Linked DNA regions of Homo sapiens: region 2 is linked to region 1. A link means that fine-mapping ties the variant in region 1 to the expression of a gene that starts in the linked region. Tissue or cell type: whole blood. Region 1 holds a variant in brackets; the other region holds the start of a gene. All regions are shown on one strand. Distances are from middle to middle.

Region 1 (4,399 bases):
AAAAGAGGGGAAAAGCTACACTAAGCTCCTCCTATTTGTTGAACCAGGTCTGCCTCGTGAGCCACGATCCATATTTGTGAGGTCCTGGTCTGGTAGGGGTCCAGCTCGTGATTACAGAACCAAGCTAAAACATCTGTGCCACGTGCAATGACACCTAGCCTCCTGATTTTCTTGACATCATGCTCTAACCACCTGAGTTAACCAGTCACAGCAGTCTAGCCACATCTTAGTTAAGAAAAGAAGGCATACCCTACCCTGGTTCAGAACTGGTCATCTTTAATGTCATGTGGTTTCAGTAACACCCAATCAACTGCTATTTAAAGGTAATTTAAGGTTGGGGGTGATTATAATAGGTTCCATTACTCAAGAGTTAAAAGTCTAATCAACTGAAAAGCAAGTGATACATTGGGACCACAAGGACATATAGCTTATATTTCAAGCCTGTTTTTTAAAAAAGATTCCAAATATTTAGGAACATTCCAGCTCTTCCTTGTTCTTATTGCTCTTATTGAACAAAATCTTAAATTAACTTAGCTCATCTTGAATCACATTCTTTAATTCTCACAGCTGAGCACACTGCCTCTGTTAACCCCTGAACTTTGGTGGAAATGTCATTACATAGTGCAACAGAGCAAGCAAATCTGAGCTGCTTAGTCATATTTCACTGGGTGGTACCGCTCCTGGCCCTGTGAACGTGATCTGGGATGTGTGCACATAGCTCCTACTAAAAGCAGTCACAAAGTCAGCAACAAATAATGCTCTTAGCTCAGAAATTGGATTCATTACCCACTGGTATTCCACTTACTAGAATATAGTGGATGGCATTTCTACTCTGCCTGGTTTTAAATAATAGCTGTTCCTATTTGATATGGACCAAACTTAAGGGAGCAAATCTTGCTCTCAACTTTTATTTCCTCCCTTTCTCTCCAAGATCTAATTTGTGCCTGTAGCTGAAACAACATACAGTGTATTGGAAAGAGCACTGATGTGAGAGTCAGAAGACTTTGACTCCAATCTCAGCTTTGTCACTATTGAGCAGTTGTGAGGACCTTAGGAAAGCAACACTACCTTTATGAGGCTCCATTTCCCATCTGGAAAGTGTCTTTGAGCAAAGGAGCTCAGTGAGAGGTCTTGTGGTCCATCATCTAAATAGGAGCTTTTAAAGGCAGCATCTTGGCTGGGTCCCCAAGGCCCAGAATCAGGTCTTCAGTTCTCAAGGCTCTTGAGAATGGACTCACACTAGCCAAGCTCATAAAAGGCCAATGCATAAACCAAAAGGCCAATTTCTTAATTTTTACTAAAAATAAATGAAGCACTAAGAAGATTAAATACTCCCATTTTCTGGCCAGGGCACTCTCTCCCAATAGAGAAATCTCTCTGGTGAGCTAAATTATAATGAGAAATGTGTTGAGTACTACAGAATCAGAGCAAAGAGAGTCTAGGGTATTGCAGCCTAACATGCTTACAACCTGTTTACAAGCTGATTTTTCAAAATGTCATTTTTAAATGACCTATTTATAAATTCTGGCTTTATCTTGCTGCCACTGCATCGTGGCATTTGGACTGTGATCATGGACAGCTTTAACTCTCTATGTTTTCTTTTTGGCTCTGTGGATTTCTATAAAGTCACTTTACATAACTAATATGGACTCCTAGATTACTCGAACCTCATAGAATCTAGAGCCAGGAAGTTCAGCTCCATGGAGCTCCTATGACAGAAGCCAAGATCTGAGCTTTCTCCCTCACTCTTCATTAAGTCACAAATCTCATTCCCTGACGGCTACCTCAGCATCACCATAGGACTCCCATTCTTCCTTGTTAGCACTCCTATAGGGGAGAAC[C/T]CCTTTCTCTATAACAGAGACTTTAGTTGAGTATTAAGTGTTCAGGTAAGAGGGGAATGAATGAAGAACAATATAGGCATCTTAGTGGGGCCAGTCACAGGATTAAATAAAGGGAGAGCAAAAGAGAACAACTGATGGCTGGGCACAATGGCTCACACCTGTAATCCCAGCACCTTGGGAGGCCGAGGTAGGTGGATCACTTGAGTCCAGGAGTTCGAGACCAGACTGGCCAGCATAGTGAAACCCATCTCTTCTAAAAATACAAAAATTAGCCAGGTGCAGTGGTGGGCACCTGTAATCCCAGCTACTCAGGAGGCTGAGGTAGAAGAATGGCTTGAATCTGGGAGGCGGAGGTTGCAGCGAGCTGAGATTGCACCACTGCACTCCAGCCTGGGCAACAGCGAAACCCCGCCTCAAAAAAAAAAAAAACAACGAAAGAAAAGAAAAGAAAAAGAAAAAAGAAGAAGGAACAACTGGTTTTGAATAATCTCACCAAAAAGAGAGTAGGCATGAAGGAAAGGGAAAAATGAAATATCTCTTGTCAATAGCCCTTGCCAAGCCAAGGACAGGAAGCAGGAGGCCTAGACTCAGCTGCCTCACAGTCAGCCAGCCATTGTGGCTTGGCGGGCTCCCACCCCTCCTCCTGTGCTCCTGTCACCAGAGCCTTTGCAAAAGCACACTGGTTGCCAGTTTTGCGGTGTGGGGTGGATGGGTGATCTCTCAGCTGCTGGAGCATCTGTGTGCCAGACATGAGGGTGTCTTCCCCAATGCCCCCACTCCCACCCCTTTAGAAACAGGGACTGACTCCCTAGTGTTCCAAATTGGAATGCGGAACACATTTTCCCAGAAACAGCATCACACCTGCCACTTAGCCTCTGTGAGTTCTATAGTTCAGCCACATTAAGTATTCAACAGGCTGTTGTGGGCCAGCCAGAAAACATAATCACCGTGTTGAGCCTTGTTTCTATGGGAAAATGTTTTCTGTGTCCCTAATAATCACTTAAAAATGAACTTTTGGAAAATAATTTGTTTTTACATTGAAGAGTGGCCAGACATGTGTTCCCAAATCAATGTCCAACATCCTTTATGCTTTTTCCTTGTCCCTTCATATAAAAGATGAACAAATGCCCTAGACATTCAGGGTACTATTTATTTTAGAACTCTTAGTGATGAGAGAATCAAGGTAAATATATGAAGTCCGTGAGAATACCCTCAGAAATTTCAGTAGTCAGCAGCTCCTCCGTGCCTGTTTAACAATCCAGGCAGTTAGAGAGGAGCCTCACCTATGGAGAGAAGGCTCCCTTGGTCCCTGCTTTCCTAGCAGCTACTAAGATTTAGGGTAGGAGCCCCAGAGCCTACCAGAATTTACAGCAGAGACTGGTGGTAAATAGCCCCACACAAAGACTAGGGAGAAACGAGGGCCATGAAACAAAAGAGCCACTGCTAGTCGCCTTCAGCAGCAGCCCTTCCAAGTATCACCTGTTGCTATCCATAATGTCCTCACTGACCTACCTTCATGTTTCTTTTTTCCAAACAGCTACAGCTTTATAGTCTGTAGAGATGTTGTAAATTTAAGCTGTCAGTGGTCTATCAGCCCAATATTCTTTATTCATTATGCAGGTACTGAGATTAGTCCTGAATTTCCTATTAAAAGGTAGGCTCTTTGAAGTCCGCATTCCCCCACAGACCTGGCCCCAATATTCAACATACACGAAATACTTGATAAATAACCATTCATTGGTTGATTGACAGGATGCTCTGTCAGAGAGACTTATAAAGGTAAATTATGCCTAGAACGTAAGCCCCATGATGTCAATTTTTTTTTCACTTCTGGATCCTCAGTGTCTAGAAGAGTGCCTGTCACGCAGTAGGCACTCAATAGATATTTGGTTAATTAATGAGAGTTTAGCTGTTCTCATCAATAGATGATTAATCATACTTGAAGAAAAAGTATTGCAGAAAGTATAATAAACTCAGAAAGAGATATCACTTAGGAAAGAAAAAAAACAATCTCCACGCAATTTTCCAGGAAACATGTAACATCTAAAATTAGATGTACCTGTGCTCATCAGCAAAATTAAGCTCTGTGACCACGAGGTGACCAAAGGTGCTTCAGACTCTACGGTTGTTAATTTTTTAAGTTGTGTGCTGAGTGTGGGCAACATCTGCAACTGCTTGCCTGTCCCAGGTAATAGAGGTTCCTCTAAATGCCATCACAAAGCACCATGACCTCATTATCATAGAGAAGAGAAGTTGCAAAGAACTGTGGGATTTTACTGCTTTTTCTGGAATTGGTTATATTTTCAACCGTTTTTGTTGTAAAACTGAATAAATGGCAAACACTACAAGCCACCCTCCCCTGTTCATGCCTATGCTCTAAAACTAGCTCCAACTCACAGCCAGAGCACAATGGGACACGGCAAAGCAACTCACCAGCAGCAAGAAGGGGTAACGTGTAATTGGAAAGACTACAATTCACATGCCCAAAATCCTCCTAACACCTGCTAAACTTGGAGGAAAGGATGCTGTGCCAAAGTTATTATTATTTTCTCTCTTTA
Region 2 (4,399 bases), 110 kb before region 1:
GATACGGAGAATCTTAAGGGAGAACAGGTCTGGATTGGAATTAGAGTGGTGAGATAAATTAATTTTAGAGCATACCAAATGTAAGATGGCTTTGGGATATCCAAGTAGAGATTTTCAGAGGTAGCTGTGCTTACAACTCTGAAGTTCAGGACTTCAGTTATAGATTTGAGATTTATCACAATGAAGGTGAGATTGAAACCCATGAAAGTTCATGAAACCCATGAATCACCCAATGAAACCATGGAGAACAAGAAGAGAGGGGAGGAGAGGAGAAGGGAGAAGGAAAGGAAATAGAGAGAAGGAATACCAAAGTTTTAAGGGATACAAAGAGGAAAGAAGATAACATGAAGAAGGATTCTGAGAGGCAGAAGCCCTTAAGAATAGGGTGATATAGAATTCAAGTGGGGAGAGCATTCAGGAAGATGACAACAGGATAATAGGTCAACAGAGTAATAGAGAGGTCGCTAAAAATAAACTCTAAGAAGTATTCAGCCAAAACTATTATTGAGCTAATAATGGTGGGATCAATTTCAGGGGAATATTGTGGGCAGAAGTCAGACTGTAGGAGGCTGGGGATCAAGAAGTTGAGGCAAGGAGGTTGGACAACAACTGTTTTTTCAAGTTGGTCACGTGAACAAATCTGTGACCTTCAGCCTCCCCTCCCTCGGGTCTTGGCTGAGCTGATTGCAGGGCCCCTGCAGCTCTGGCACTCTCAAGTTGTATAAAACTGACAGTGCAGAAGTCCTTGAGCCCATTTTGGCTCTCATGATAATTTTCCTTCAGTGGAACTAAGGTTACTTGTCTAAGAACCAAAGCCTCTGACTTGACTGATCAAAGTTCATCACGTGCATCGAAGCCACCTACTTGGCAGATGTAGTGAAAAGCTACATAGATCTGGGCCCAGGACAGGATGCTGGGGCGTGGGAGGGGAAGAAAGCAGGTGCTAACTATATAGATAGCATGCCTATCAGAGCAGTTTTTACGTTTCCTATTTGTCTCTCAAAACAATTTTATAGGAATCATCAAAGCAATTTTATCATGGTTTCTAGACCAGGTTTGGATGTGAGGTAGGGATTTCCACAGCTGCTTTTAGTTTGAAGGAAATCTGATAAGATGATGCAAAAGCCCTTCAGAAATGTGTAATCCTACACACTTCAGTGATTCAATTCATTGTCAAAACTTAAGGTGTTTTTAATATTGTTATTGTTCATTTGGTTTTTACCAACATGTAAGGAGTTGGCAATTATTTGTTAAACTCATGTCTTAGGCTAAATAAATTCCAAAAAATTCAGGATGAGAATTGTTTATTGCTTAACGTGTTTCAAATTTCTTCCATGCACATCTTTATTAGATCTTCACAGCAACCTACAGGATAAGCAAGACAGGTGCAAGTGCCTCCTTTGGGTATGAGGAAACTGAGGTCTAAAGAGATGAAGTGATTTGCCCAAGGCTCATAGCAATTTATTGGTAGAGCAAAGACTAGAATTCAGATCTCTTAACTGCAGCCTATTTTCCCTATTCTGAACTGTTACATCAGCATCAACAATTATCTAATGGATTGGAACAGTGTACACAGGCAGCTTAGCTACGTCAAGTCACGATTTTTACTTTAACTTCAATTCCAGAGTCTTGGCCTGATTTCCCTCAAGACCCTACTTATCTTTGCCTTTGCAAAATTTATTTTTCTTGCATTATCTTTCCAGCTAAATTTTATTTAATAACCATCAGCATGCTTTTTTTGCTTTATGCCATGTAGACTTGACCTGAAAACCTGCCAGGCTTTCATTGAGTTTAGTGATTAAAGAAGTAAAGTTCTGAGAAGCAATTAGTTGATGGGACACCAGTCATAAAATCAATCCAAACTTTTGTTGACATGTGTTTCTTTCTCCATATACCAGGTTCCCGCTTCGTATTAGTAAGATTGAAATTGAAATAAGTCTATTGCTGGTGGATGAATTTGTCACTTTCCTTGAAACTGGTGAACCCAAAAAGTTAGACAGTGATAGGAAAATACTGCCATTGTCTGTTAAGAAGTCTATGACATTTCAAGGCAAGAATGAATATATGGAAGAAGAAACTTGTTTCTTCTTTACTTACAAAAAGGAAAGCCTGGAAGTGAATGATATGGGTATAATTAAAAAAAAAAAAAAAAACAAAAAACCTTTACGTAACGTTTTTGCTGGGAGAGAAGACTACGAAGCACATTTTCCAGGAAGTGTGGGCTGCAACGATTGTGCGCTCTTAACTAATCCTGAGTAAGGTGGCCACTTTGACAGTCTTCTCATGCTGCCTCTGCCACCTTCTCTGCCAGAAGATACCATTTCAACTTTAACACAGCATGATCGAAACATACAACCAAACTTCTCCCCGATCTGCGGCCACTGGACTGCCCATCAGCATGAAAATTTTTATGTATTTACTTACTGTTTTTCTTATCACCCAGATGATTGGGTCAGCACTTTTTGCTGTGTATCTTCATAGAAGGTTGGACAAGGTAAGATGAACCACAAGCCTTTATTAACTAAATTTGGGGTCCTTACTAATTCATAGGTTGGTTCTACCCAAATGATGGATGATGGTAGAAACCAAATAGAAGAATGGTCTTGTGGCATAATGTTTGTTGCCTAGTCAATGAAGTCTCATATTCTTGTCTCTGGTTAGGATCTTGGGATCTGGAGTCAGACTGCCTGGGTTCAAATCTTGGCTCTGCCCATACCATCTCTGTTATCCTGGGGCAAGTGCCTCAGTTTCCACATCTGAGAAATGGGGATGGTATTGGTGTCCATTTCATAGATTAAGTGAGTTTAGCCTTGTAAAAAGCTTAGGAGGGGGTCTGATACATAGTAAGCACTATGTACGCACTAGCTATAATTATTTGCTAAAGTTCTGCTTTAAAAGTAAGCTATTTTTTTATGGAGACAGCTTTTTTCTTTTAAATTTCCAGCTAGGCAAGAAGAGCGTCAATTTGATCTAAAATTTCATAATGCTTCAGATTAACATAGACATGGATAAGTCCCAGAATTTGCAGTCTTTTAGTAAAAGTAGCATTTTCTGTGTAATTCTTCACAAGCACTGATTGTAGTTGCAGGATGCTCAGTCTCCCTCTGAGATGTTTTACATTTTTAAATGGTTAGACTTGCAGGAACAAAAGAGCAGAGTAACTTAGTAGGCTGTTTTGCATTCTTAGGAAAAGAAAACCATCAGGACTTATTTTGTTTTCATGTATTTTTTCACTTCCACTGAGGAGTATAATTGGCTGGTGTTGACAAAATACCAATCATAGATGTAAAGGAGAAAGTTGATTAGTTTTCTGGCTGTTCCTAAAATTCTGGATGCAGGAACTGTGGCTAGAAAGCATCTGGATGATTGCACTTTATCAGGGATACTTGAGTGTCCTCTCTTAGGATCTGGACCTAGAATTAATGTCATGAGATTTTTCTAACAGGATAAGGTGAGGTAGTGAGGGCTGAAGTCATCCACTGGGTTATCCAAATATTAGGTTTCACTGCTGACAAAAGAGGGGGCTTCTGGTCTGGTTGGTTATTTGTGTTTGGCCTGATGTGCTCTGTCAATCAAATGTATGGACATAGGCCTAGCTTCTAAAGGGGCAATAGTGACCTCAGTGGACTGATATTTACCGTACTATTTACATGTGCTCTTAATTACAGCAGAAGCTGCCAGCTAACTGAATCTTGTTTTGAATCTAAAAAATCTACTCTTAAAGCAAGAAAATGGTATAAAATTAGTTGATAATGCAAGTGAATTCTGTACATTTAATTATTCTAAGACATTGGAAAATAAAATATCTTGTTACTTTGAGGATAAAAGATGATTTCTTTAAAAATGCAAATGTTTTCTACAAATACTAAAGTTAAAAGGGAGAGAGATGTAATTAGAACTCGTTAACTGACACATTGCAAATTAACTTCTTTTTATAAAGCACTGCATCACAAACACTAAAATGAAGTGGGCAAATTAGCTCTGCAGAAAACTATTTTCTAGGCTGATGTTTATAATGACCAATCATTACTGAAGCAATGAGAAATGTGACAATTACAGAATATTGCTGCTATAGTATGTTGAAAAAATATGCATTTTGTAGTGAACATTTAGTAGAATAGCTCTGATTTCTACCTGGAGTTTCTGATAACATGACATCTTAATTGCTGTCTTTTATAGATTTTTAAACTGCAAATACAAAATAGCAATCAGCCAATATAATAACTTATTATTCTCCATTTATGCCTGAAAGTCCTCCTCTTGTTGATGCCGTGGAAATGAATGTAGAGGCAGATATCATTAGCTGTATTCTCCTTCCGAATGACATTTATCATATCCTTGTTATTCCAAAATAGATAGAAGATGAAAGGAATCTTCATGAAGATTTTGTATTCATGAA

What was found. PIP is the estimated chance that this variant, and not a neighbour inherited with it, causes the effect.
Region 2: CD40LG starts here. The variant in region 1 is the best candidate, but not a certain one, in a credible set for the expression of CD40LG in whole blood (TOPMed, PIP 0.50).

Annotation. Positions count from the first base shown.
Region 1 is chrX:136,752,327-136,756,725 of GRCh38, forward strand. The region is part of intron 2 of ARHGEF6 (Rac/Cdc42 guanine nucleotide exchange factor 6); the gene reads right to left. Among named protein-coding and RNA genes, the nearest start is that of ARHGEF6, 26 kb to the right of the region's middle. The variant C/T (reference allele first, on the strand shown) is at 1,842.
Region 2 is chrX:136,645,911-136,650,309 of GRCh38, forward strand. CD40LG (CD40 ligand) reads left to right here and starts at 2,248. Exons shown (of 5, transcript NM_000074.3): 1 at 2,248-2,494; 2 at 4,356-4,399. The coding sequence starts at 2,339.